Regions from separate parts of the Homo sapiens genome. Here regions 2, 3, 4 and 5 are each linked to region 1. The links come from fine-mapping of genetic effects on gene expression. A gene starts in region 1. Each other region holds a variant in brackets. All regions are shown on one strand. Distances are from middle to middle.

What was found. PIP is the estimated chance that this variant, and not a neighbour inherited with it, causes the effect.
Region 2: its variant is the best candidate, but not a certain one, in a credible set for the expression of CDV3 in adrenal gland (GTEx, PIP 0.74).
Region 3: its variant is the best candidate, but not a certain one, in a credible set for the expression of CDV3 in whole blood (INTERVAL, PIP 0.86).
Region 4: its variant is the best candidate, but not a certain one, in a credible set for the expression of CDV3 in prefrontal cortex (ROSMAP, PIP 0.81).
Region 5: its variant is the best candidate, but not a certain one, in a credible set for the expression of CDV3 in whole blood (INTERVAL, PIP 0.90).

What each region holds. Positions count from the first base shown.
Region 1 is chr3:133,571,008-133,576,109 of GRCh38, reverse strand. It overlaps CDV3 (CDV3 homolog), which reads right to left and starts at 2,424. Exons shown (of 5, transcript NM_017548.5): 1 at 1,826-2,424; 2 at 995-1,071. The coding sequence starts at 2,065. RefSeq lists silencers at 1,456-1,845, 1,876-1,985, 2,006-2,545 and enhancers at 2,926-3,095, 2,752-3,253, 3,196-3,435.
Region 2 is chr3:133,543,312-133,548,413 of GRCh38, reverse strand. It overlaps the pseudogene FAM76AP1. Among named protein-coding and RNA genes, the nearest start is that of CDV3, 28 kb to the left of the region's middle. The variant G/T (reference allele first, on the strand shown) is at 3,007.
Region 3 is chr3:133,628,605-133,633,706 of GRCh38, reverse strand. It overlaps TOPBP1 (DNA topoisomerase II binding protein 1), which reads left to right. Exons shown (of 28, transcript NM_007027.4): 15 at 4,974-5,102. Among named protein-coding and RNA genes, the nearest start is that of TOPBP1, 31 kb to the left of the region's middle. The variant G/A (reference allele first, on the strand shown) is at 2,332.
Region 4 is chr3:133,413,121-133,418,222 of GRCh38, reverse strand. All of the region lies in intron 1 of BFSP2 (beaded filament structural protein 2), which reads right to left. Among named protein-coding and RNA genes, the nearest start is that of BFSP2, 16 kb to the right of the region's middle. The variant C/A (reference allele first, on the strand shown) is at 2,256.
Region 5 is chr3:133,654,025-133,659,126 of GRCh38, reverse strand. TOPBP1 (DNA topoisomerase II binding protein 1) reads left to right here. Exons shown (of 28, transcript NM_007027.4): 3 at 1-111; 4 at 1,186-1,329; 5 at 2,270-2,451; 6 at 3,641-3,837. Among named protein-coding and RNA genes, the nearest start is that of TOPBP1, 5.4 kb to the left of the region's middle. The variant A/G (reference allele first, on the strand shown) is at 2,974.

The DNA.
Region 1 (5,102 bases):
CTGCTTTTTGAGTAAGTTATCTAAAGCTATAGATACTAACATCCAGAGAAGTCAAAAGACAGTTTTCAGTTAAGGAAAGTATTTCCTCCACTGTGCCTCGCACTCACTGGCATTGCCTATAAAATGCAACCTTCAAACTGGAGACAGTTTATCAAGATCCTTTATTTCTTTAAACCGGGAGCAAAGGATTTTTTCATCTTACAGCAGAACCATATCTTCATTTGTTTTTTCCTACTTTATGAACCCTCCAAAATATAGCACTTACTTAACATCAACCTTAAAGTTGACTGCCATAGACTGGACTTGACAAAATGTTAATTTCAAATCTTCTAAACTACCCAATTTTTAAAAATTACTATTTTTTTGAACTTTAAAAAATAACATGTTTACAAATATAATTCCATTCCTATGAAGTTTTAGAAAAAATTATGGTGTTAGAATAGTGGTTATGTTGAAGGTGAATGCAGTGAGTATGTGTTAGGAGGGGAACCTTGTTCTGTATCAGTAATACTCAGTTTCTTGACCTGGTGCTTATTGCACAGGTTGGTTGCACTGTGTGAACACATAAAACCTCTATCTCTCTGTAAGTATGATATACTTCAATTACAAAAACATATATTCACTTGCTTATTGGAGAGGATGTGAAAAACATCCACATTACTTTTGAAACCAAAACTAAGTACAATCACCGATGTTAAAAGTAAAAATTTTGAAGCGACAAAATCCACTTTAGCTGTCTCAAATGAAAAGTCCTAACCAGAACTGGAAGTAGGCAAGCTCTCACAGGATTTTAGAGTCAGCAGCTAATTTCATGAGCACACGGAAGGGCTGCCTCCATGGAGTGAGAAAGAGTAGACAGAACCCATTTGAGTCCTAATAAGCATATCTAGAGCACAAGGCTACTATGATGCTGCTTTGGGGCCAAAGGAAAACCTAACTTGTATCCAATATCTATCCCAAAGGTTATCTAAACACATTTGTAACCAGACTATACCTTATTTGCATTGCCTGAACCCTGAGGCCGCTGTAATCAACCTCTTTTTGCTCCAATTCTTTCCATTCATCTTCGTCCTGTAAAACAAACGCCATTTGATCAATTAAAGCTATTTGTAGACATATAACTAAGCAAATAACACACTACGAAAAGTGGATCAAGTGGCTGGAACCTAAACTAAGTATGTACTTGTCTTCTGGTCAAAGCCCTTGCTTCGTTCTGGGGCAAACTAGGCTAAATGGAGGACAAACATGCTCGTAGGCTAACACTATACTTCCGCTGGGTTCCTGCATGGGAGCTGTTACTTTAAGCAACTAAGAAAAGCCGAAGGAAGAAGTCAATAGGAATTTCACAACTACATTTCTACTTCAACCTTGCCACCGAGAGTTTTCTTTTTCTTTCACGGGCTTAGAGACTAAGTCATCACAAAAGAGCTGCTACAAATGCGGCTGCTGAAAGCGAAAATTCAGCTCAAACTACTGGGCTGAGGTCAGCACACGGAATTACTCAGCCTAGACGTCACCCGATAAACGCTGCTCTGTGCTGGGCACTGCGGCCCCAGACCTAGTGCCCCCGGAGGGTGGCGCCGCCCGGGCCTTGGCTAACGCCGAGCGACGCGGGGTGGGAAGGGCGGCTCCACCGCGGATATCGGAAGGGGTCCCGGCCCTGGCGAGCCCAGCCCGAGGTGGAGAGCCTGCGTCACGTGGCGGCCCGCGCCCGTCCGCCCGGCCTCCGCGGCCCCTCCCGGACGCTTCCCCGGCAGGCGGGGGCGGGCACATGGGGCGCCGGCGCGCGGCCCGGGCCCCGAGTGCCGGCCTCCCGGCCCCTCACCTTCGTCACAGCCTTGGTGGCGGCCCCTGGGCCCGCAGCCCCCGCGCTGGCGGTCCCGCCGTCACCCGGCCGGGTCCCCGCGCCCGCCCCGCCGCCCGCCGCACCCGCGGCTCCACTGCTTCCGCCGGCGCTGCCCGCTGCGCCCGCGGCACTCGCCGCCCGGTTGCTCCGCTCCTTCTTCTTCTTCTTGTCCCTCTTGGCAAAGAAGTTGTCCAGGCTCCGCTCCTCCGTCTCAGCCATGGCCTCGGCCTCCTCGACCCGGATGGGTGGGGCCGGCGGCGGGCGCGGCCCGCGGGGCTCCGAGCTCGGGGTCGAGGCCGGCTCTGCGCTCACGCTGCCGGGCGCGGCGACGCCTCAGCCCCGCGGGGTCGCCGAGGCGTGCGCGGCGAGACGGGCGGCTCCCCCTGCGTGCTGGCGAGCGGTGGTACGGTCCGCCCGGGGGCTCGCGCGCCGCCGCTGTCGCCCGAGGCTGCCGGGGCTGCCGCTGCTGCTGCGACGGCGGAGCAGGATTCCGCTCTCCCCACAACCTGAGGGGAAAAGGCACGCGCGAGCCAGAGGTTCTGGCGAGAGTGCTCGGCTAGCAGCGGCGCGTGCCGGAGGAAGAGGCGCGCGCGCAGGCCTGGAGAGGAGGGGAAGGGAGTGGGGAGGGGAGGGAGAGGGAGGAGGGAGGGCGGGCCGCTAGAAGAGAGAGGAAGCGCCTGCGCCTGCGTATTTTGCTCTGCCTGCCGCTGTGGGATCGCCAAGGGGCGGGCGGCGGGAGGAGATGGAGGCGGAGCTGGAAAGAGAGCCAATCAGGTGCCAGGACGAAGCTCTTAGGTGACAATCCCTGACCCAGACGGGGCGGAGTCCAAGCATGGGGGCGGGGAGAGGAGGGCATATGCAAAATAAGTGACGTGCCGGGCGACTCCGGTTTCCCGATTGGCCGAGGGTTTAGTCTTGAGGGCGGGCATGTTGAGGGCTGGTTGATGACTTGGCTAAAGAGGTCCAGCAGGAGGGGCAGTGGGTTCCTTTTGGACGCATGCGCAGGATGCACGTGTGTTTCCTGGCCCAGAACAAACCGTGGCCCCATAGTAGTCGTTTGAACTGTCGCGAAACGGACAGGCACTGCGTTAAGCCAACTGTGTTAAAGATTGTTCCTCTCCTCTGATCGCTTCTGTACTTCCACCCCCTCTGGAGTGGCAACCATTACTTTTCTTCTTTACCGGTTGATTGTGAAAGTGAGAGGAGCAGTGAGCCTGAAGTTTAGGTCCCATTTACTAAAAGATCTTTCATAGGCTGGTTGGTAGGTAGAAAGGGATTTTGTCTGAACTCCACCCTCTGGATTATGTTTACCAAGGTCAAGTTCAATAAATCCTATCGTCAAGTCCCTAATCTGTAAAGTGGGTATACTATTTCTTACAAGATAGGGGGATGGAGGGAAGAGAGTCAACATTATTAGCTGCTCAGCACATTGCTTAACGCCCTGACTTGAGTCTAGATGATGATACAGTTTATCCTTAGCTTCTATCCCTGATAAAAGGAGGGGACTGTCTTATCATAGGGGTGGAGACCAAAATGCCCAGGCGAAAGCCAGGTTTAAATGGGTTTAAAGCCCATTTAAATACCCTTGGGGCCTTGAAAATGAAATGAATTCTATATGCAAAAGGTGGTCTAAAGTAAGCTCTTAAACTTTCTACTTCCTCCTTCTAAAAGCAGAAGAGGGAGCTGTCACAACCATTGAGGAAATGACTCAGACAAATGTTGGTAGCCATATGGGGTAGATAGAATCCAGCCAGTAAATGGAGAGACTTCTTCGTCTTTTCCTTTACAGTTACCCCATTAAAGTTTCTCTTTTCCTACCCCCTACTTACACTGCTATTAAAGAATTAACTTCTGGCTGGGCGCGGTGGCTCACGCCTGTAATCCCAGCACTTCAGGAGGCCGAGGCAGGCGCATCACCTGAGGTCAGGAGTTCGAGACCAGCCTCACCAAAATAATGAAACCCCGTCTCTACTAAAAACACGAAAATTAGCCGGGCGTAGTGGCTAACGCCTGTAATCCCAGCTACAGGTTGAGGCTGGAGAATTGCTTGAACCCGGGGGTGCGGAGGTTGCAGTAAGCCGAGATCGCCTCATTGCAATCCAGCCTGGGCAACAACAGTGAAACTCCGTCTCAAAAAAAAAAAAAAAGTCTAACTTCTGAATGTCAAAAGAAATCAAGGACCTAGCCTTGGCCAGCAAGTAGCTTGAGCTTATACATATACTATTCCCCAAACATGAACAGCTCCCAAGGTGACTTCCTTCTATGACAACATATATCTTCCTGTGATGCAGGCCAGGTTCAGTACTGCCCATCACCATCACCCTCCCTTACCATCGCTAATCAAATTTATTTTCTTTCTTTTTTTTCTTTCCTTCTTTTTTCTCCCTTCCTCTTTTCTTTCCTTCTTTTCTTCCTCCCCCCTCTTTCTTCCTTCCTCCCTCCCTCTCTTTCATTTATTTATTTATTTATTTACTTACTTATTTTTTGAGGCAAAGTCTTGCTCTTGTCACCAGGCTGGAGTGCAATGGCATGTCAGCTCGCTGCAACCTCTGCCTCCCAGGATCAAGCGATTCTCCTGCCTTAGCCTCCTGAGTAGCTGGGATTACAGGCACCCGCCACCACACCCAGCTAATTTTTGTATTTTTAGTAGAGACGGGGTTTCACCATGTTGGCCAGGCTGGTCTCAAACTCCTGACCCTCGTGATCCACCCACCTCAGCCTCCCAAAGTGCTGGAATTACAGGTGTGAGCCACCATGCCCGGCCCTCTCCCTCTCTTTCTTTCCTCATCTATGAAGCACTTATTTTGCTATATTTCGGGCAAAGTGCTTTATTCAAAAGTGAGTAATTTGTGATTCCTGCATTCAATTCCCTTATAATCTAGAAGAGAAGATCTAGATATAAATAAGTTTCAGTTATTTATATCTTTCTTAAGTCCTTATCAATTCATCATTGTCTTGAAAGAATTAATGACTTGAGAAAATACACAGAAGGAACAGTAGTTGAGGGCTGACGCTGCAGAATTTCCCACTACATTTTTCAGTGTGATTGATGGCATGATCCCAGAACTTGATCATGTGTAAGAAATTCAGGTCAGGCCAGTAGAGAGACCAGTGTCTTTGTGGTTGTGTCATTGTTTGTAGTAATTCTCTCCTCTGTGAAGCTGGTCCCTTCCTCTTTGAATCACCTGCCCTAAAATTGACAGCATCTGTTCCCATCAGTTGCTCCTTTTAAACCTCCCCTACCACCCTTCTCCAG
Region 2 (5,102 bases), 28 kb after region 1:
TTTGAACGAAGTGTAGTCATGAGTGGTAAGTCTGAATAAGCCATGCTTAGAAATATTTTTGAATGCCAAGGCAAAGCCACATCTGTTTCATTTGACAGGCAGAGCTGAGGTCACAGTTGGCCTGAAGTGAAAAACCCGAATTCTTGCAGGGACTAGACAAGATTAGTGGTCTAGGCATAAAAATAATCAGGAGGCAACCATGACCCAACTCCAGCTCACACCACTCAAGAATACAGTCACCTGGCCAGAACCTTTGATTTTTCAAAAGAAGCAAAACAACAAAAATCCAAAAGCTTAGGTAAAATCTCATAATTTAAAATTTTTAGCAACTACTTAAAAATGTGTGCAGGTGGAACAAAACTTGTCTAAGTGCCAGATGAGGCCCCTGGGTAGCTACAGAAATGTCTGTTCTCCCCAGGTGTCTGCAGGACTAAGCTGTGGTGTGGAGAGCCGCTGGGCAGAGGTGGTACAGGGAGGATCAGAGAAAGCTCCAGCAAAAGGCTTCTGCTGCTCTAACTTTCTTTCTATCCTGATGAAGAAACCCAAAAGCATTCCTCTCTGAGGTATTTGCATTTTTGGAATTTCTTTCTATTTTTGTCTTTTGGAATCCTCCCTAGCACTGGTTTGCTGGGGAACTATGAACTGGGCCTGGCAGCTTGTGTTAGGCTGTTTTTGCATTGCTATAAAGAAATACTTGAGACTGGGTGGTTTATAGTAAAAGAAGTTTAACTGGCTCATGTTTCTGCAGGCTATACAGGAAGGATTGTGCTGGCATCAGGACTCAGCTTCTGGGGAGGCCTCAGGGAGATTTTATTCTCAGCAGAAGGCAAAGCAAGGAGCTTGCACGTCACACAGCAAACACAGGAGCAAGAGAGAGTAGGGGAGGTGCCACGCACTTTAGACAACCTGACCCAACACCTCCCACCAGGCCCCTCCTCCAACACTGGGGATTACATTTCAACATGAGATTTGGCAGGTACACAGATCCAAACCATATCACAGCTGGTTTTCACTTTTCAGGCTTCCGAACAGAAAAGTCTTATATAACCGATCTCTTTTCAATGGTTAGTTGCTTGTCCCAAGGGTGAAGACTCTTATAAGCATTGTGTGTGTGTGTGTGTGTGTGTGTGTGTGTGTGTGTGGTGTAGGAGCAGGGGAGAGAGAGGGAGAAAAAGAGGGAGAGACAGCTTCCTTCTCCTGAAGGACTTTCTCAAGATTAACAGCATATTCTGTGGCCTGAGCTTTCTGAACCTGGCAGGAGCTGACTCTTATGGGAACAGAACTCTGCCTGTCATAGTCTCAGGTTGGGCCACTGACTTAGCTCATAATCTTGACTGACTACCTTAGATATAGAGGCTATTAGCAAACCATTGTAGAGGAAAATGTTCCTTTATATTATGCCTGTGAACCTCCATGCACTGGGATGAGAGGTAACATAGGGGAAGAAATATTAGAATCCGTGGAGCTAGAATAGAATGCTTTATTTACTGGATTACCTTGGTAAAGTCACCTCACCTCTCTGTGCCTTATTTCCTACAAGCATAAAAGCTAGCCAGAAATATTCACCTCACAGAGGTATTATGAAGATTCTATGAGATCATGGACACAGAAGTGCCTGACACCTGGTTATGCTGGATCAGAGAGAAAAGAATGAAGAAATTGGAGCTAAGGAGATGTGGATTTAAATCTTGACTCCACGACTTATAACGACAACTACCATGAATTCAGTAATTTCTATGTACCAGGCTCTGTGCATTACCTTTTTTTTTTTTTTTTTCAGACGGAGTTTCGCTCTTTCGCCCAGGCTGGAGTGCAGTGGCATGATCTTGGCTCACTGCAACCTCCGCCTTCCAGTTTCAAGCAATTCCTCTACCTCAGCCTCCCAAGCAGTTAGGACTATAGGCACCCGCCATCACGCCCAGCTAATTTTTGTATTTTTAGTAGAGACGGGGTTTCACCATGTTGGCTAGGCTGGTCTCGAACTCCTGACCTCGTGATCTGCCCGCCTTGGCCTCCCAAAGTGCTGGGATTACAGGCGTGAGCCACTGTGCCCGGCCCTCTGTGCATTATCTTTAAAATCCTTGCAACGAGATAAATCAGCGGGCCGGGCTGGCGGGTCGGTGAGCGCGGCCCGGGCCGGACATGGCGGCGCTCTACGCCTGCACCAAGTGCCACCAGCGTTTCCCCTTCCAGGTGCTGTCTCAGGGGCAGCAGCTGTGCAAGGAATGTCGGATTGCACACCCTGTTGTGAAGTGCACCTACTGCAGGACTGAGTACCAGCAGGAGAGTAAAACCAATACAATATGCAAGAAATGTGCTCAGAACGTGCAGTTGTATGGAACGAGAAATTAAGGTGGACTGTGTTAAAAACACATTTAATAGGCCGAGCGTGGTGGCTCATGCCTGTAATCCCAGCACTTTGGGAGGGCGAGGCAAGAATCATGAGGTCAGGAGATCAAGACTATCGTGGCTAACACGGTGAAACCGCGTCTCTACTAAAAATACAAAAAATTAGCCAGGCGTGGTGGCATGCGCCTGTAGTCCCAGCTACTCGGGAGGCTGGGGCAGAAGAATCACTTGAACCCGGGAGGCAGAGGTTGCAGTGAGCTGAGATCATGCCACGCACTCCAGCCTGGGTGACAGAGCAAGACTCCATCTCAAAAAAAAAAAAAACAAAAAAAAAAAAACACATGTAACAAAGAAAGATTTCTCAGTTTCTTTCCTGGTTCTATTATTGACCTTAAAGAAGATATTCATATTTTGTTTTGTTCATTCATAAAATGTGGACCATTATATTCTAACATTTCACGAGAATATGAATTACAGTCATCACGTAAGTGAAATGGTGATTGCCAGAATTCTGTGGAATCCTGTAAAGGAGAGATTGTAACTTAAGCAAGATGGAGTGGCATTACCAGTTTTACTATCTGGCTCTTTAAATGTTTCTATCTGTTGAAATTCAAGATTACAAGATTACGTTAGAGGGAAGCTCTACGTGGAAGGGTA[G/T]ACCTTGATAGAATCAAAATGATTTAGAGTTTGGGCATATTACTCTCTTGCTTAAAATCCTCCACGGGTTTCCAGTTGTGCTTAGAATAAAACTGAAATCCCTTCTATGGCCTGCAAGGCCCATACCCAGCTCTCAGTCTCATCTTGCATCATACTTTCTACCTCTCACCTTGCTCCAGCCATCCTGGCCACCACCCTGTAGTCTGTCTGACATGCAGATCTCACTCCGACCTTTGCACTGTCTGTCCTTGTGCCTAATGCACCCTTCTCTAGAGTCTCATAACTGGCTGATCATGTCAGGTCTCAGCTCAGGTACCACCTGCTCACAGTGACCTTTTACTGACTCCCTTAGTCATTATTTATCATACCATTTTATTGTCTTCATAGCATCTCACATATTGAAAACTAGTCTTGCTTATTTGGTTACATGTTTGTCCACCCCGACTAGAATGTGAGCTCTTTGTCCATCTCATTCTCTGCTTTATTTCCAGTGGCCTGGCACATAGTAGCTGCTCAATAAGTATTTGTTGAATAAAAGATGGCAGTTGAGAAACTCTTTTTCAGTGACCAGAGGTGCTTTTAAGAGGTGCTTGGGCTCAAGGGGTGACTCTTGCTTACCAAATTCATTAACTTACAATGGAAGGATATAACTTTCCATTGACCAGGATACTCCTGCCTGCCAACCAGGACACCTCTTCCCTGTATCAAGATACTGAAGAATCTTAATTAGTAATCAGGAGGTAGCACAAGCAGCAGTCCCCCAAACCTGGGTCCCATCTGACTCCTGGGGCTAGCTGAATGACCCTGGCTACTTGGCCGCATTATGCATCACTTTCTTCATCTTTCTCCATGGGAATAACAATAGTTATTGTCTCACAAAGACATGTCTCACAAAGACATGGGGAAATGTAATTCAGATAGGTATATAAAACAATAATATTGAACCTGGCACATAATATAACTCAGAAAAAAATAAATAAATAAAATCCTTGCAACAACTCAGCATGAATGAAAGAATCATGATTATTATCCTCATTTTACAAATGAGGAAACTGAGGCACAGAGAGGTTAAAATAACTTGCCCAAGGCTTCACACAGGTAAGTGGTGAAGCCAGCCTATCTGATTCCAGAGCTTGTACTTTCTAGCTATGTAATTTAGTATAAGCCCCATAAGTTTTCTTATCCTCAGTTTCTACAGCTATAAAATGAGGGCATCTTTGTGAGGATTAAGAATAATGTATATAGGCTGGGCGTGGTGGCTCATGCCTGTAATCATAGCACTTTGTGAGGCTGAAGTGGGCAAATCACTTGAGGTCAGGAGTTCGAAATCAGCCTGGCCAACATGGTGAAACCCTGTCTCTACTAAAAATACAAAAATTAGCCAGGTGTAATGGTGCATGCCTGTGATCCCGGCTAGTTGGGAGGCTGAGGTAGAATTGCTTCAATCTGGGACACGGAGGTTGCATTGAGACAAGATCGTGCCATTGCACTCCAGCCTGGGTGACAGAGTGAGACTCCATCTCAAAAAAAAAAAGAAAAAAAGGAAAAGAAAATTTAAGAATAATGTATATAAAATGACTGTCACGGCAGTTCCTGATATTTCATAGATATTAACTATTTTTACTAACTCCTCAGTGTTACGGATTGAATTGCATTCCCTTGAAAGATGTTGAAGTTCTAACCCGTAGTGCCTGTGAATGTGACCTTATTTGGAAATGGGGTCCTTGCAGATGATTAAGTGAAGATGAAGACATTAGGGTGGAAAGTTTGGACTCAGAGACAGAGATGCACACAAGGAAAAGGCCATGTGAAGATGAAGAGATTGGAGTGACGCGCCAACAAGCCAAGGAACAACAAAGATCGCCACCAAAACACCAGAGGCAAGGAGAGAGGCCGAGAACAGATTCTCCCTCATAGCCCTTCGAAGGATCCAAGCCCATGACACCTTAATTTTGGACTTCTACTCTCCAGAGCTGTGAGAGGATACATTTCGGTTATTTTCAGCCACCCAGTTTACGGACTTTGTTATGGCAGCCTTGGGAAGCAAATGCACTCAGTACATGTTAATTTGTATCTTACCTACTTTGTACTTGCAA
Region 3 (5,102 bases), 58 kb before region 1:
AATACTTCCACCTCTGCCTTCAAAGCAACTAGGACTTCAGGTGCATGTCACCACACCTGGCTAATTTTTAATTTTTTTGTAGATACGGGGATCTTACCACATTGCTCAGACTGGCCTTAAATTCCTGGACTTGAGCAATCCTCCTGCCTTGGCCTCCCAAAGTGTTGGGGTTATAGGTGTGAGCCACCACGTCCAGCCAAAGAAAAGAGCTCTAAGCAACACCTTGAGGTGCTCACCTTTAGAGGAGGAACCAGCAAAGGAGACTGAGAAGGAGCTATAAGAGAAGAGGAAAGCCTAGAGCTTATTTCAAAGAGCCAAGTATTTCAAAGAGGGAGGAGGGGTTAACTATGTCCAGGACTGCTCTAAGATAAAGAAAGGTGAGAATAGAAAATTGGCCAGTGGATTGAGCATTATGAAGGTCAATGGCGTCATCATAACAATAAGGGTTTTGGTGGCATGATGGAGGTGGAAGCTGGTGTGGGTTCATAAAGAAATGAGAAGAATCGGAGACATTGAGTGTAAACAACGATTTTTGAAGGAATCTTGCCATAAAGGGGAGCCAAGAAATGGAGTTGTAGTTATGGGGCAAAGTAGGGTCAAAAGAAGGTTGTTTTCTTTTTAAGGTGGAAGAAATAGCCAGGCTCAGTGGTGCATGCCCATAATCCCAGCACTTTGGGAGCCCAAGACGGGAGGATCACTTGAGTCCAGGATTTCAAGACAAATCTGGGCAACATGGCAAGACCCTGTCTCTACAAAATACACAAAAATTAGCTGGGTGTGGTGGTGCACGTCTGTAGCCCCAGCTAGTTGGTAGGCGGAGGCAGGAGGATTGCTTGAGTCCAGGAGATAGAGGACGCAGTGGGCAGTGATCATGCCGCTGTACTCCAGCCTGGGTGACAAACTGAGACCCTGTCTCAAAAAAAGAAGAAGAAATAACTATATGCCAGTGTAACTGCCATTAGAGAGCCAATTGATGATGCAGATGAGAGAAGGAAGACTTGCAGGAGGCTTGAGTCTGAGAGGCATTGGGATCTACTTCTTAAGTAGAGGAAGGTACTAGTGGCACGTGTGCTGAAGGCAGATAGATGTGGTATGGGAGCTTCTGATTTTTATATAAGGAATCCTCTAAAATGCTTTGAAGAAATTTTAAAAAGTTTAGCATATAGAAAGACTTACCATGTTCTTGCAAAATAGATTTAAACATTGTCAAGATCTATAAAGGTGTATTAATCTGTTTGCACATTGCTATAAAGAACTACCCCAGACCGAGTAATTTATTCTTATTTTTATTTTTTTATTTTGAGATGGAGTCTTGCTCTTGTCACCCAGGCTGAAGTGCGGTGGCATGATCTCGGCTCACTGCAACCTCCGCCTCCTGGGTTCAAGCAATTCTGCTGCCTCAGCTTCCCAAGTAACTGGGATTACAGGCGCCTACCCCCACACCCGGCTAATTTTTGTATTTTCAGTAGAGACGGGGTTTCACTGTGTTGGGCAGGCTGGTCTCAAACTCCTGACCTCAAGTGATCCACCCACCTCAGCCTCCCAAAATGCTGGGATTACAGGCGCGAGCCACCACGTCCAACTTTATAAAGAAAAGAGGTTTAATTGACTCAGTTCCACAGGCTGTACAGGAAGCACCACTGGGGAGGCCTCAGGAAAATTACAATCACGGTCGAAAATGAAGGGGAAGTGAGCACGTCTTTCATGGCTGGAGAAGGAGGAAAAGATAGCGGGGGGAGATGCCACACACTTTTAAACAACTGGATATCAGCCAGGCGCAGTGGCTCACGCCTGTAATCCCAGCACTTTGGGAGGCCAAGGTGGGTGGATCACCTGAGGTCAGGAGTTCAAGACCAGCCTGGCCAATATGGCGAAACCCCATCTCTACTAAAAATATAAAAATGAGCCGGGTGTGATGGCATATGCCTGTAATCCCAGCTACTCGAGAGACTGAGGCAAGAGAATCACTTGAACCAGGAGGCAGAGATTGCATTGCACCAAGGTCGCGCCACAGCCCGGGCAACAGAGTGAGACTCCATCTCAAACCAGATATCATGAGAACTCACTCATTATCACAAGAACAGCAAGGGGGAAATCCGCCCCCATAATCCAGTCAACTGCCACCAGGCTCCTCCTCCATCATTGGGGATTACAGTTCAACATGAGATTTGAGTGGGGACACAAATCCAAACCATATCAAAAGGTAATGTAGGTCCTAGAAAAAAATGCAAGCAGAAACAATATTAAAAAAAATCTGAAAAGTATAATTGCAGGTAGGCAGTAGCCCTACCGTTTATTAAAACCTCCTATAAAGTTGCAGTAGTTAAAACA[G/A]TGTGGTGTCACGTGAATAATCAAGTTAGTGTATAAGATTATACTCCACAAATAGGGGAATTTATTATGTAATAAAGGTGGCATTCAAATTGGACAATTAGGTAGCCATCTGAAAATACGTTTGTAATTAAAGCTCACACTTTACATCAGAATACTTTTTAGATGATCAACTTTTGGGGTTTTTCTTGAAATAGGATCTCACTTTATCACTTAGGCTGGAGTTCAGTGGCATCATCGTGGCTCACTGCAGCTTTGACCTCCTGGGCTCAAGCAGTCCTCCCACCTCAGCCTCTGGAGTAACTCAGACTAGAGGTACATGACACTGTGCCCAGCTAATTGTATTTTTTGGAGAGGTAGAGTCTCACCATGTTGCTCAGGCTGGTCTAGAACTCCTGGGCTCAGGCAGTTCTGCCTTGGCCTCCCAAAGTGTTGGAATTACAAGCGTGAACAACCACACCCAGCCTAGATGATCAGATTTAAACATAAGAAATGAAGCCATAAAAATTCCCAAACATGTCATGAATTTGTTTCTAAAATAATCCTAGTGTGGGGAAGGCCTAACTATAACATACACTCCAAAAGAAATAGAAGATTCGTATGAATTTGACAGCATTAAAAATTCTCTAACTGGGTGTGATGGCACATACCTATAGTCCCAGCTGACAAGGGAGGATTGCTTGAGCCCTGGAGGCAGAGGTTGCAGTGAACTAAGATTGAGCCACTTCAGTCCGTTCTGGGCAAGAGAGCAAGACCCCGTCTCAAAAAACAAAAAAATTACAGCGAGTCACCGTGACTCACACCTGTAATCCCAGCACTTTGGGAGGCCAAGGCGAGAGGATTGCTTGAGCCTAGGAGTTTGAGACCAGCCTGGGAAAGACGGCAAGACCCTGTCTCTATGAAAAATTTTAAAATTAGCTGAGCACAGGGTTGTGCATCTGGAGTCCCAGCTACCTGGGAGGCTGAGGTGAGAGGATCCTTGAATCCAGGAGTTAGAAGTTACAGTGACCTATAATCATGCCACTGTACTCCAGCTTGGGTGACAAAGCAGGACTCCATCTCTGAAAAAAAAAAAAAGCTCCATGGCAAAAATTTGACAAATGATAAATTGAAAATAAATACGTGGGTATTATATCACAGTTGATACATGCACATATAAATTCATACAAATGAATATAAAAGTATATTCATACAAGCGAATATATTAAAAAAAAGACTAACAACCCAGTAGAAAAATGGGCAAAGGATAGGAGCAGATAGTTATCACAAAAAATTAGATATAAATATACATATAGCCAGGCGCGGTGGCTCACGCCTGTTATCCCAGCACTTTGGGAGTCAAAGGCGGTTGGATGATGAGGTCAGGAGTTTGAGATCAGCTTGAGCAACATGGTGAAACCCTGTCTCTACTAAAAATACGAAAAATTAGCCAGGCATGGTGGTGCATGCCTGTAGTCCCAGCTACTCGGGAGGCTGAGGCAGGAGAATCGCTTGAACCCAGGAGGCAGAGGTTGCAGTGAGCCGAGATCGCGCCATTGTACTCCAGCCTGGGTGACAGAGCGAGACTCCGTCTCAAAAATATATATATATATACACACACACACACATATAAAGATATTTAACCTCATTCAGTATAAAAGAGTAGAAAATTAAAGCATACAGATAAAATTTTTTAGTCTTATCAGATTGTCAAAAAAGAAAAATCTGATTACTGTGATATCAAGCACGTTTGGAAAACACACACACTCATACTTTGCTCATGAAAATGTCAACATTGGTAGATACATGTTGGTCTTGTTTTTTTAGTTTTTTTAAAAAGAAATTGGGTCTAACTGTGTTTCCCAGACTCGTCTCAAAACTCCTGGTCTTGAGCTGTCTTCTTGCTTCAACTTCTCTGGAGTAGCTGAGATTACTGACAGGAGCCACTGCACTGGGCTGGTAGATACATTTTGCTTAAAAGGTTTCCTTTACTCTTGTGTGTGCAAAATGGTTTGTGTACAAGGTTATTCATTGCATCATTATACTTGCAAAAGACTGTTAACCGAAAGCTTATCAGTTGTACACAGGTTAAATACATTCTGATACATACATGGAATACTATACACATGCAAAAGAGAATGAGCAAGCCATTTGGACAACAGTAGCTTCCTTTCAGGAGGGAACTGTTGGTGGCTTTAGAACAGGAATATATTTTGAACTTTTGAAGATTTTTTTTTTTTTAATTCTCAGCTCATTTTGACTTTCTAACCTTCCTTATAATCCATTTCTTGATTATATCCGTCGTTGCTTATTTGTTTCCTTCTGGGTTTTTTTGGTTTGTTTTGTTTTCAAATTCAACTCTAAGATTCAGGTAAGAGACAAGCACTGCTGAAAATGTAAGCTAGTTAGTCTCTTTGAACCAATTTGCTGGACAGTATGGAATTTTTGTTCACAGTATATGGATTTGATTATAGTTTATTCTTTTTCTTGTTATTTGGAGGAAAACTAGAGGAAGTTAAACTGTAATCCATTAATTTTGAGGATTCTCCCCCTTCTCTCTCTTTACCCCTCTCTCCTCCTCTTTCTTTTTCCTGTCCTATTAACCCATCTTGCTTCTCTCTCTCTCTCTTCTTTTCTCCATCTCTCTCTCTCCTTCATATGTATAGGATGCACTTGCAGCCTTGGAAACTCCAGGACGTCCCAGCCAACAGAAAAGGAAACCGAGTACGCCACTCTCAGAAGTTATTGTCAAAAACTTGCAACTTGCTTTGGCAAATAGCTCTCGAAATGCTGTC
Region 4 (5,102 bases), 160 kb after region 1:
ACCTGGAAGTACTCTGGGCAGTAGGGCTAGCAGTAGGAGCTGAGGAGGTGGGAAGAGAGGGGAGAGAACAGGGGTGAGTAGAGGGGAGAGGACAGGGGTGAGTAGAAGGTAGAGGGCAGGGGTGAGTTAAGGCGAGAGGGCATGGGGGACTAGAGGGGTGAGTAGAGGGGAGAGGATAGGGATGAGTAGAGGGGAGAGGACAGGGGTGAGTAGAATGGAGAGGATAGGGTCTAGTAGAGGGGTGAATAGAGGGGAGATGACAGAGGTGAGTAGAGGGGAGAGGACGGGTGAGTAGAGGGGAGATGGCAGGGGTGAGTAGAGGGGAGAGGACAGAGGTGAGTAGAGGGGAGAGGACAGAGGTGAGTAGAGGGGAGAGGACGGGTGAGTAGAGAGGAGAGGGCAGGGGTGAGTAAAATGGAGAGGATAGGGTCTAGTAGAGGGGTGAATAGAGGAGAGGTGACAGAGGTGAGTAGAGGGGAGAGGACGGGTGAGTAGAGGGGAGATGGCAGGGGTGAGTAGAGGGAAGAGGACAGGGTTGAGTAGAGAGGAGAGGGCAGGGGTGAGTAGAGGGAAGAGGACAAGGGTGAGTAGACGGGAAATGGCAGGAGTGAGTAGAGGAGTGAGTAGAGGGGAGATGGCAGGGGTGAGTAGAGAGGAGAGTAGAAGGGAGAGGGAAGGGATGAGTAGAGGGGAGATGGGAGCGAGGGAAGGGATGAGTAGAGGGGAGAGGGCAGGGGTGAGTAGAGGGGAGAGGGTAGGGGTGAGTAGAGAGGAGAGGATGAGGGTGAGTAGAAGGGAGAGGGTGGGGTGAGTAGAGGGGAGATGGCAGGGGTACGTAGAGGGGAGAGGGCAGGGTGAGTAGAGGGGAGAGAACGGGGTGAGTGGAGGGGAGATGGCAGGGCCGAGTAGAGGGGTGAGGACAGGGGTGAGCAGAAGGGAGAGGGCAAGGGTGAGTAGAGGGGAGAGGACACGGGTAAGTAGAGGGGAGAGGACACGGGTAAGTAGAGGGGAGAGGCGGGGTGACTAGAGGGGTGGATAGAGGAGAGATGGCAGGGGTGAGTAGAGAGATGAGAGAGGGGAGAGGGCAGGGGTAAGTAGAGGGGAGAAGGCAGGGGTGAGTAGAGGGGAGAGGGCAGGGCTGAGTAGAAGGGAGAGGGCAGGGATGAGTTGAGGGGAGATGGCAGGAAGGAGTAGAGGGGTGAGTAGAGGAGAGAGGGCAGAGGTGAGTAGAGGGGAGACAGCAGGGTGCATAGAGGGTGAGTAGAGGGGAGAGGACGGGGTGAGTAGAGGGCAGAGGACGGGTGAGTAGAGGGGAGAGGGCAGGGATGAGTAGAGGGATGAGTAGAGCAGAGGGGGCGGGGTGAGTAAAGGGGAGAGAACAGGGCTGAGTAGAGGGGAGAGGACAGGGGTGAATAGAAGGGAGAGGGCAGGGGTGAGTAGAAGGGAGAGTGTAGGGGCAAGTAAAGGGGTGAGTAGAGGTGAGAGGGCAAGGGTGAGTAGAGGGGAGAGGATGGGGAGAGTAGAGGGGTCAGTAGAGGGGAGAGGGCAAGGGTGAGTAGAGGGGAGAGGACAGAGGTGAGTAGAAGGGAGAGGACAGGGGTGAGTAGAGGGGAGATGGCAGGGGTGAGTATAGGGGAGATGGAAGGGGTTAGTAGAGGGGAGATGGCAGGGTGTATAGAGGGATGAGTAGAGGGGAGAGAACAGGGGTCAGTAGAGGGCAGACACAGGACAGGGATGAGTAGAGTGGTGAGTAGATGGGAGATAGCAGGCATGAGTAGAGGGGAGACGACAGGGTTGAGTATAGGGGAGAGTAGAGGGGAAAGGGCAGGGGTGAGTAGAGGGGAGAGGGCAGGCATGAGTAGAGGGGACAGGACAGGGGTGAGGAGAAGGGAGAGGACGGGTGAGTAGAGGGGAGAGGACAGAGTTGAGTAGAGGGCAGAGGACAGGGGTGAGTAGAGGAGAGAGGACAGGGGAGAGGGCAGGGTTGAGTAGAGGGGTGAGTAGAGCGGAGGGGGCAGGGGTGAGTAAAGGGGAGAGAACAGGGCTGACTAGAGGGGAGAGGACAGTGGTGAAGGGGGAGGGCAGGGGTGAGTAGAGTGAGAGAACGGGTGAGTAGATGGGACATAGCAGGGGTGAGTAGAGGGAAGATGGCAGGGTGTGTAGAGGGATGAGTAGAGAGGAGAGGACAGGGGTGAGTAGAGGGGAGAGGACGGGGTGAATAGAAGGGAGAGGGCAGGGGTGAGTAGACGGGTGAG[C/A]AGAGGGGAGAGGTCAGGCGAGTAGAGGGGAGATGGCAGGGCTGAGTACAGAGGTGAGTAGAGGGGAGAGGGCAAGCGTGAGTAGAGAAGAGGGCGAGGGTGAGTAGAGGGGAGAGGGCAGGGGTGAGTAGAGGGAAGAGGGCAGGGGTGAATAGAGGGGAGGTGGTAGGAGTCAGTAGAAGGGTAAGTGGAGGGGAGATGGCAGGGATGAATAGAGGGGAGATGGCAGGGTGCATAGAGGGATGAGTAGAGGGGAGAGGACAGGGGTGAGTAGAGGGGTGAGTAGAGGGGAAATGGCAGGTGTGAGTAGAGGGGAGATGACGGGTAAGTAGAGGGGAGAGGGCAGGGATGAGTAGAGGGGTGAGTAGAGCGGAGGGGGCAGGGGTGAGTAGAGCGGAGGGGGCAGGGGTGAGTAGAGGGGAGAGAACATGGCTGAGTAGAGGGGAGAGGACGGGGTGAATAGGGAGAGGGCAGGGGTGACTATAGGGGTGAGTAGAGGGGAGAGGACAGGAGTGAGTAGAGAGGAGAGGACAGGGTTGAGTAGAGGGGAGAGGACAGGGGTGAGTAGAGGGGTTTGTGGAGGGGAGAGGGCAGGGTTGAGTAGAGGGGTGAGTAGAGGGGAGAGGACACGGGTGAGTAGAGGGGAAAGGACAGGGGCGAGTAGAGGGGAGAGGGCAAGGGTGAGTAGAGGGGTGAGTAGAGCAGAGGGGGCAGGGGTGAGTAGAGGGGAGAGGACAGAGGTGAGGGGAGAGGGCAAAGGTGAGTAGAGGGGAGAGGACAGAGTTGAGTAGAGGGGAGAGGATGGGGAGAGGACGGGGGAGAGGGCAGGGTTGAGTAGAGGGGTAAGTAGAACAGAGGAGGCAGGGCTGAGTAGAGGGGAGAGGACTGGGGCAAGTAGAGGGGAGAGGACAGGAGTGAATAGAAGGGAGAGGGCAGGGATGAGTAGGGGGGTGAGTAGAGGAGAGAGGACAAGGGTGAGTAGAGGAGAGATGGCAGGGGTGAGTAGAGGGGAGATGGCAGGGTGAGTAGAGGGGTGAGCAGAGGGGACAGGGCAGGAGTGAGTAGTGGGGAGAGGACAGGGATGAGTAGAGGGGAGAGGGCAGGTGTGAGTAGATGGAAGAGGGCAGGGGTGAATAGAGCAGACGTGGTAGGAGTGAGTAGAGGGGTAAGCGGGGGGGGGGTGGCAGGGTGAGTAGAGGGGAGAGAATAGGGGTGAGTAGAGGGGAAATGGCAGGGGTAAGTAGAGGGGATAGGGCAGTGGTGAGTAGAGCAGAGATGGCAGGGTGAGTAGAGGAGTGAGTAGAGGGGAGTGAGACAGCGGTGAGTAGAGGGGTGAGTAGAGACGAGATGGCAGGTATAAGTAGAGGGGAGAGGACAGGGCTGAGTAGAGAGGAGAGGGGAGAGGGCAGGGGTGAGTAGAGGGGTGAGTAGAAGGGAGAGGGCAGGGGCAGGTAGAGGGGTGAGTAGAGGGGAGAGAGCAGGGGTGAGTAGAGGAGAGAGGGCAGGGGTGAGTAGAGGGGAGAGGGCAGGGGTGAGTATAGGGGTAAGTAGAGGGGAGAGGGTAGGGGTGAGTAGAGACGGCAGGGGTAAGTAGAGGGGAGAGGACGGGTGAGTAGAGGGGTTTGTGGAGGGGAGAGAGCAGGGGTGAGTAGAGGGGTGAGTAGGGGAGAGAGGGCAGGGGTGAGTAAGGTGAGAGGACGGGGTGAGTAGGGGGGACAGGACAGGGGTGAGTACTGGGTTTTGTGGAGGGGAGAGGGCAGGGGTGAGTAGAGGGATGAGTAGGGGAGAGAGGGCAGGGGTGAGTAGAGGGGAAAGGGCAGGGGTGAGTAAGGTGAGAGGACGGGGTGAGTAGAGGGGAGAGGATGGGGGGAGTAGAGGGGTTTGTGGAGGGGAGAGGGCAGGGGTGAGTAGAGGGGTGAGTAGGGGAGAGAGGGCAGGGGTGAGTAGACGGGAGCGGACAGGGATGAGTAGGGCGTGAGTACAGGGGCCAGGCAGGCGTGGGCAGTTACATTCAGCAGGGGACTTTGTCTTCTGCATAATTTTTCCCAGAGCCTGCTGAAATGCGGGGGCTTTCTAACTTCCACACTGTAGTGTTATTTAGTTAGCGCTTATTTAGATGGTTATTCGTTGGTCCTGCAATAAACATGTAACTAAAAAGGACAAGTTGTTTTCCAGTGGTGGTCAGTTTGGTGGTGGAGATTTCCACTCCTGTGCCCTGCATTCACTCCCTCCTGAGGACTGCTGAAATCACTTCTCGTTTCTGCTGAATAATGCACTTGTGACAGCCAGCTCTACTAGCTCGTTTACAACCAGATCAATGAGTCTTTATGTGCTTTTCCCCAGCCAGACGACAATAAACTAGGTTTTATTTGCCTAAATTGAGTCCTCAAATTCGGTGGATCAGCATAAACCCTCTGGGAGAGCGCTGGGGACCCTGAGTAACATTCTGCTTGGTTCAGCCATTCTTTCACTAATTCCCCCGTAAAAAGCCACCACATTTGTCCTCAGCACTTGTGCCAGCTGCCTGGATTAGTTTTAATTTAGCTCTTCTGGAGAGTGTAGCCCTTTAGAACATCTTTCCTATTGCTCTTCTGTACGCTTGTTTAATTTGGCTGGGTTTGTTTTGAGAGGAGCTGTGGAGATGGGTCTTCTCTCCCACCGGGACACGTCAGTAGAAAGGTTCTCTTGCTTCCGTGGAGTTCTGAAGGCTTCCCCTGCCCCAAGACCTGATAGGAATTACTGCTTCCCCCACCCCAAAAGCCACTGACAGGACTTTTATTTATTACTGCATATTTTATTTAAGGTAAAACCTCCAAACAGTGTCAAAGAGTATATACCCCAAAGTAA
Region 5 (5,102 bases), 83 kb before region 1:
GAATATCTTCAGATTATTACAGAAGAAGAGGCATTGAAGATAAAGGAGAATGATAGATCACTTTATATCTGTGACCCTTTTAGTGGCGTTGTCTTTGATCACCTCAAAAAGGTTTGCTGACTTCTAGTGTGTACCTTTGGTAGTCTATTTTTTGGTTTATCTTTGCTTTAATGGACATACATTCTTTGCGGATTATAAAGTACTATGCAACTTATGAGTACATTGGAATTCTTTTGGTTTGGCAAGACCAGGATTGAAAGGCTAATTATGTTACAGTAGGCTTTTTTTGTTTGTTTGTTTGTTTTTGTTTTTGTTTTTTGGAGACAGAGTCTTGTTCTGTTGCCCAGGCTTTAGTGCAGTGGCACAAGCTCAGCCCACTGCAACTTCTGCTTCCTTGGTTCAAGTGATTCTTGTGCCTTAGCCTCCTGAGTAGCTGGGATTACAGATGTATATACACACCCGGCTGATTTTTTTATTTTTAGTAGAGAAAGGGTTTCTCGATGTTGGCCAGGCTGGGCTGGTCTTGAACTCCTGCACTCAAGTGATCCTCCCACCTCAGCCTCCCAAAATATTGGGCTTATAGATGTAAGCAGTAAGGCAGTTTTCAGTGAAAGGGGCTTTTGAAGTTTATTTCTTTTCTTTTCTTTTTTTTTTTCTTTTGTTATAGGGTCTCACTCTGTCGCCCAGGCTGGAGTGCAGTGACGTGATCTCAGCTCACTGCAACCTCCGCCTCCTGGGTTCAAGCAATTCTCTTGCCTCAGCCTCCCTAGAGACTGGGACTGCAGGTGCCCGCCACTGCACCCGACTAATTTTTGTATTTTTAGTAGAGACGGGGTTTCACCATGTTGGCCAGGCTGGTCTCGAACTCCTGACCTCAGGTGATCCACCCCCGCTCGGCCTCCTCTGAAGTGCTGGCATTACAGGCGTGAGCCACTGTGCCTGGCCTGAAGTTTATTTCTTTTGATAGCTTGCATTGTTTGATTTGCTTTTGTGTGTGAGTGTTTAATGTATAGTATCTCTGAGAAATTATATAGTCATCTTTATTTTTTTCTTGTAATGATTTGCTGATTTCTCTACAGTGGTCATCAACTTTGGTAAAGAATTGGTGAATGTTACAAAATGTAATTTTGTAAGACTGGTGGTCTTTTCCTTCTTAACTCATTTAAACTTTTCTCTTTTTTGTAGCTTGGCTGCAGAATTGTTGGTCCTCAAGTAGTCATATTTTGTATGCACCACCAGCGATGTGTCCCAAGAGCCGAACATCCAGTTTATAATATGGTTATGTCTGATGTAACCATATCTTGTACAAGTCTGGAAAAAGAAAAAAGGGTAGATATTGATCTCATGATGATTGATCAATTTATATATCTATCTCTTATTCTTAATTTTTCACTGCATAGAAGATAGCTTAAAAGACTTTCCGCTTATTGTTCGTGACTTTTAACAAAGTTCAGTATACAACCACAGTGTGTATATATGTATACATGTACATTTTTTAAGTAAATTGAATATAGTAGAATTTGTTTTGTTGAAAACTGGCTAATTGAAATTTTTTGTTTTAATTTAAAAGGACACTCATTTTTTAATCACTTACATTTTTCCACTATAGGTGGACAGTCTTTAAAAAAAAGGATTCTAAATCGTTTGAATCAGGGAGGTGGAGGTTGCAGTGAGCCAACATCACGCCACTGCACTGCAGCCTGGGTGACAGAGCAAGATTTCGTTTTGGAAAAAAAAAAAAAAAAGCATTCTAAGAGAGAGCTATAGAAATACATATATATATTTGGGACAGGGTCTTACTGTCACCCACGCTGGAGTGCAGTGGCACAATCACAACTCACTGCAACCTTGATTTCCTGGGCTCAAGTAATCTTCATGCCTCAGCCTCCCGAGTAGCTGGAATTACAGGCATGCACCACCAAGCCTGGCTAAAAATAAATATTTATATATTATATAGATATAATTTATGTTGTTAAAAATACACATGTATATTTATATAGAAGCAAAGATTAAGATTTATACATCCTTTGTATAATAGTTTAATACATTCATGGAGTTGAAAGGGATAAATATAGGAAAATAATATTTTAAAAATATAATTCATACTTATCTCCCAAAAAATAATTTGGTTAATTATTTAACTTTATAATGTTATGTAACACTTATGTATTCAAACTGTCAACAGCAAAATGTATTTATGAGATAGTGTATAAAAGTGGAAGCAATATTGTTTGCTTCAGCATTAATGTGTTCTCTTTTGGGGCTGCAGGAAGAAGTTCATAAATATGTACAAATGATGGGCGGACGAGTATACAGAGACCTTAATGTATCAGTAACTCACCTTATTGCAGGAGAAGTTGGTAGCAAAAAATATTTAGTTGCTGCAAACCTGAAGAAACCTATTTTGCTTCCCTCTTGGATAAAAACACTTTGGGAGAAGTCACAAGAGAAGTAAGAAAGACATTTTTATATTTTCTAGATTTGAAAAAATGATGCATTCAATCATTTTTGGCATGTGATATACTCTTTGGACTTACTATTCAGGGAAAAAAATAGTGTCATTACTCTTTTCTCCAGCGAAAACGGAAGAGCAGAATCTACAAGCTCTTATTACCAAGATATAAGTTGACAGGCATAGAATGGGCCAAGGGTTTAGCATTAGCTACAGAGTAGGAAATGCTTTGGTGATAAAGTTCTCAGCTGTAAATATTTCTGAAATAATTGAGAAAACGAGTTTGGCAATTCTGTAGCTTTTATGTTGCATTATCCTTCAACACCATTCCCATATGTTAAGATAGATAATAAATTAGTCATTTTGGCAGTTGCATTCCTTCCAAAAGATGGCATATGTAAGGTTGAATATAAACATATGCAAGTCATCAGCTGAGATGTGATCATTTAATAAATGCTAATTGAGCCCATTTTACGTATCTGACTTGAGGTAGGCATTAGGTATATGTAGTAAGCAAAACA[A/G]GATAGTCACTTCCCTCATGGAGCTTAGAGCCTATTTCAAGGGGCACACTTCAGTTTCCCCTGCAACTAGATAAACAACCACAAGACCAAACACCACAGAATTGTATTGGCATACGAATTATATCGGCACTTTTCTGGGCTTGTTTTCAACACCATCCAGCATATCCCAAATATGTCTCCATGTCAGCAACTCTCATTCCCAATGTGATTACTTCATCAGCACACCTCCCTAGCATGGCAACAGAATAATGATATTTTTGTTGGTATTTTGCCAAAAATCATTGCTTTTACTTGTATAGAATAATGGAAAGATTAAAAAGTTCATTTATCTAATAGGCAACCAAATTACCTTTGGGTTTTTAAGTAGAGATTCAGACTTATCATTTTGGAAAATATACTATGACCAGCAAGGGCTAGAGTTAAGGAAATATATATTTTTCCCTTAAAATGGTTTTGAGAGACTGTATCTGAAACAATTACTTTGTTTTAGAGACATGTTATTGAACTAGGTGAACAATTAGTGTAATTCTGTTTTGGTGGTTCTCCTTTGTAAAAAAAAGATTATAAATCCTAAAAAATGAGGGAAGCAATAGTGATATTTGTGTTGTTTTTCATTATTCTTCTGGTAAATTTAATATGTTCTTTTTTAACCATTTGATTCCCACAGAAAAATAACTAGATATACTGATATAAACATGGAAGATTTCAAGTGTCCTATTTTTCTTGGTTGCATAATCTGTGTGACTGGCTTATGTGGCTTAGACAGGAAAGAAGTTCAGCAACTCACAGTTAAGCATGGAGGTCAATACATGGGACAATTGAAAATGAATGAATGTACACACCTCATTGTGCAAGAACCAAAAGGTAAAACTGTGTTTCACAAAGGGACAAATGAAACATTTTCTCTAGTATTTAATATTTTATTTTTATTTATTTATTTATTTATTTTGAGACAGAGTCTTGCTCTATTGCCCAGGCTGGAGGGCAGTGGCACAATCTCAGCTCACTGCAACCTCTGCCTCCCTTGATCAAGCGATTCTCCCAACTCAGCTTCCCGAGTAGCGGGATTACAGGCACCTGCCACCACGCCTGAATAACTTTTTATTTTTAGTAGAGACGGGCTTTCACCATGTTGGCCAGACTGGTCTCTAACTGACCTCAATTGATCTTCCCACCTCAACCTCCCAAAGTCCTGGGATTACAGGCATGAGCCACCGTGCCCAGCCACTAATATTTAATATTTTAAAATCTTTACAGAACAGCTTTTACTTCTGACATGTCATTAATCTAGTTTGATACTGTTTTCTCTAACATCTTGCAAAGATGTTTTCTCTAACATCTTGCAAAGTTTTAACTGGAAGACACACCTTGCGGCACATGAGGCAGTAAAAAATGAAAAAGACATTACGAACAAGAAAAATTCTTTAAAATTGCTATTAAGTTTGGTGTTACATAACATTATTCTGGATAATTTTTTATCAGCACTCTTAAAATATACACAAATTGATAAAAGATGAGTTTTGTTAATGTTTTTATTATTGCCCTTTATATGTATACTGTGTTTTACTAAGCTATCTAGATTGAGAAGAAATTACGATTAAATGGTAATTGTCCTTAAGTCAGAACTTTGAGTATGGCTGATTGTGATAGGATCACTGTGAGTAGAGTTGATACTGCTGTTCTTTTTCTGAATCTGAAGACAGTTCATTGTTGATTCTCTCAAGAATGCCAAAAAACCTTTCATGTGACATATTGACCTCAATTCCTCTGTGATACTGCTTCAAAATACATTGTGTTGAAGATTTTTAAGGTAATAAAAGATACATATTTTCAATATAATTTATCTTTTGGCTTATCTATCCTGGACTTTAAGTAGAAGCCTGTTGACATTGGAATAGTCTGTTCAAAGTTGGGATTTATTATATAGCACAAATTTACAATTTTCACATTGTACAAGCTGGTTTAAAGAAATTAAGTGATGGAGCCTATATGCAAACCCAAGTCCAATATTAATTAAGTTACCCCACAGTTGCTTCTGTCTTCCTGCAGTTTGTATAAAAGATAAAACCTCTCACATGGCATATGTATTTATACTACACATAGAAAATATAATTAGGCAATAAGCTAAA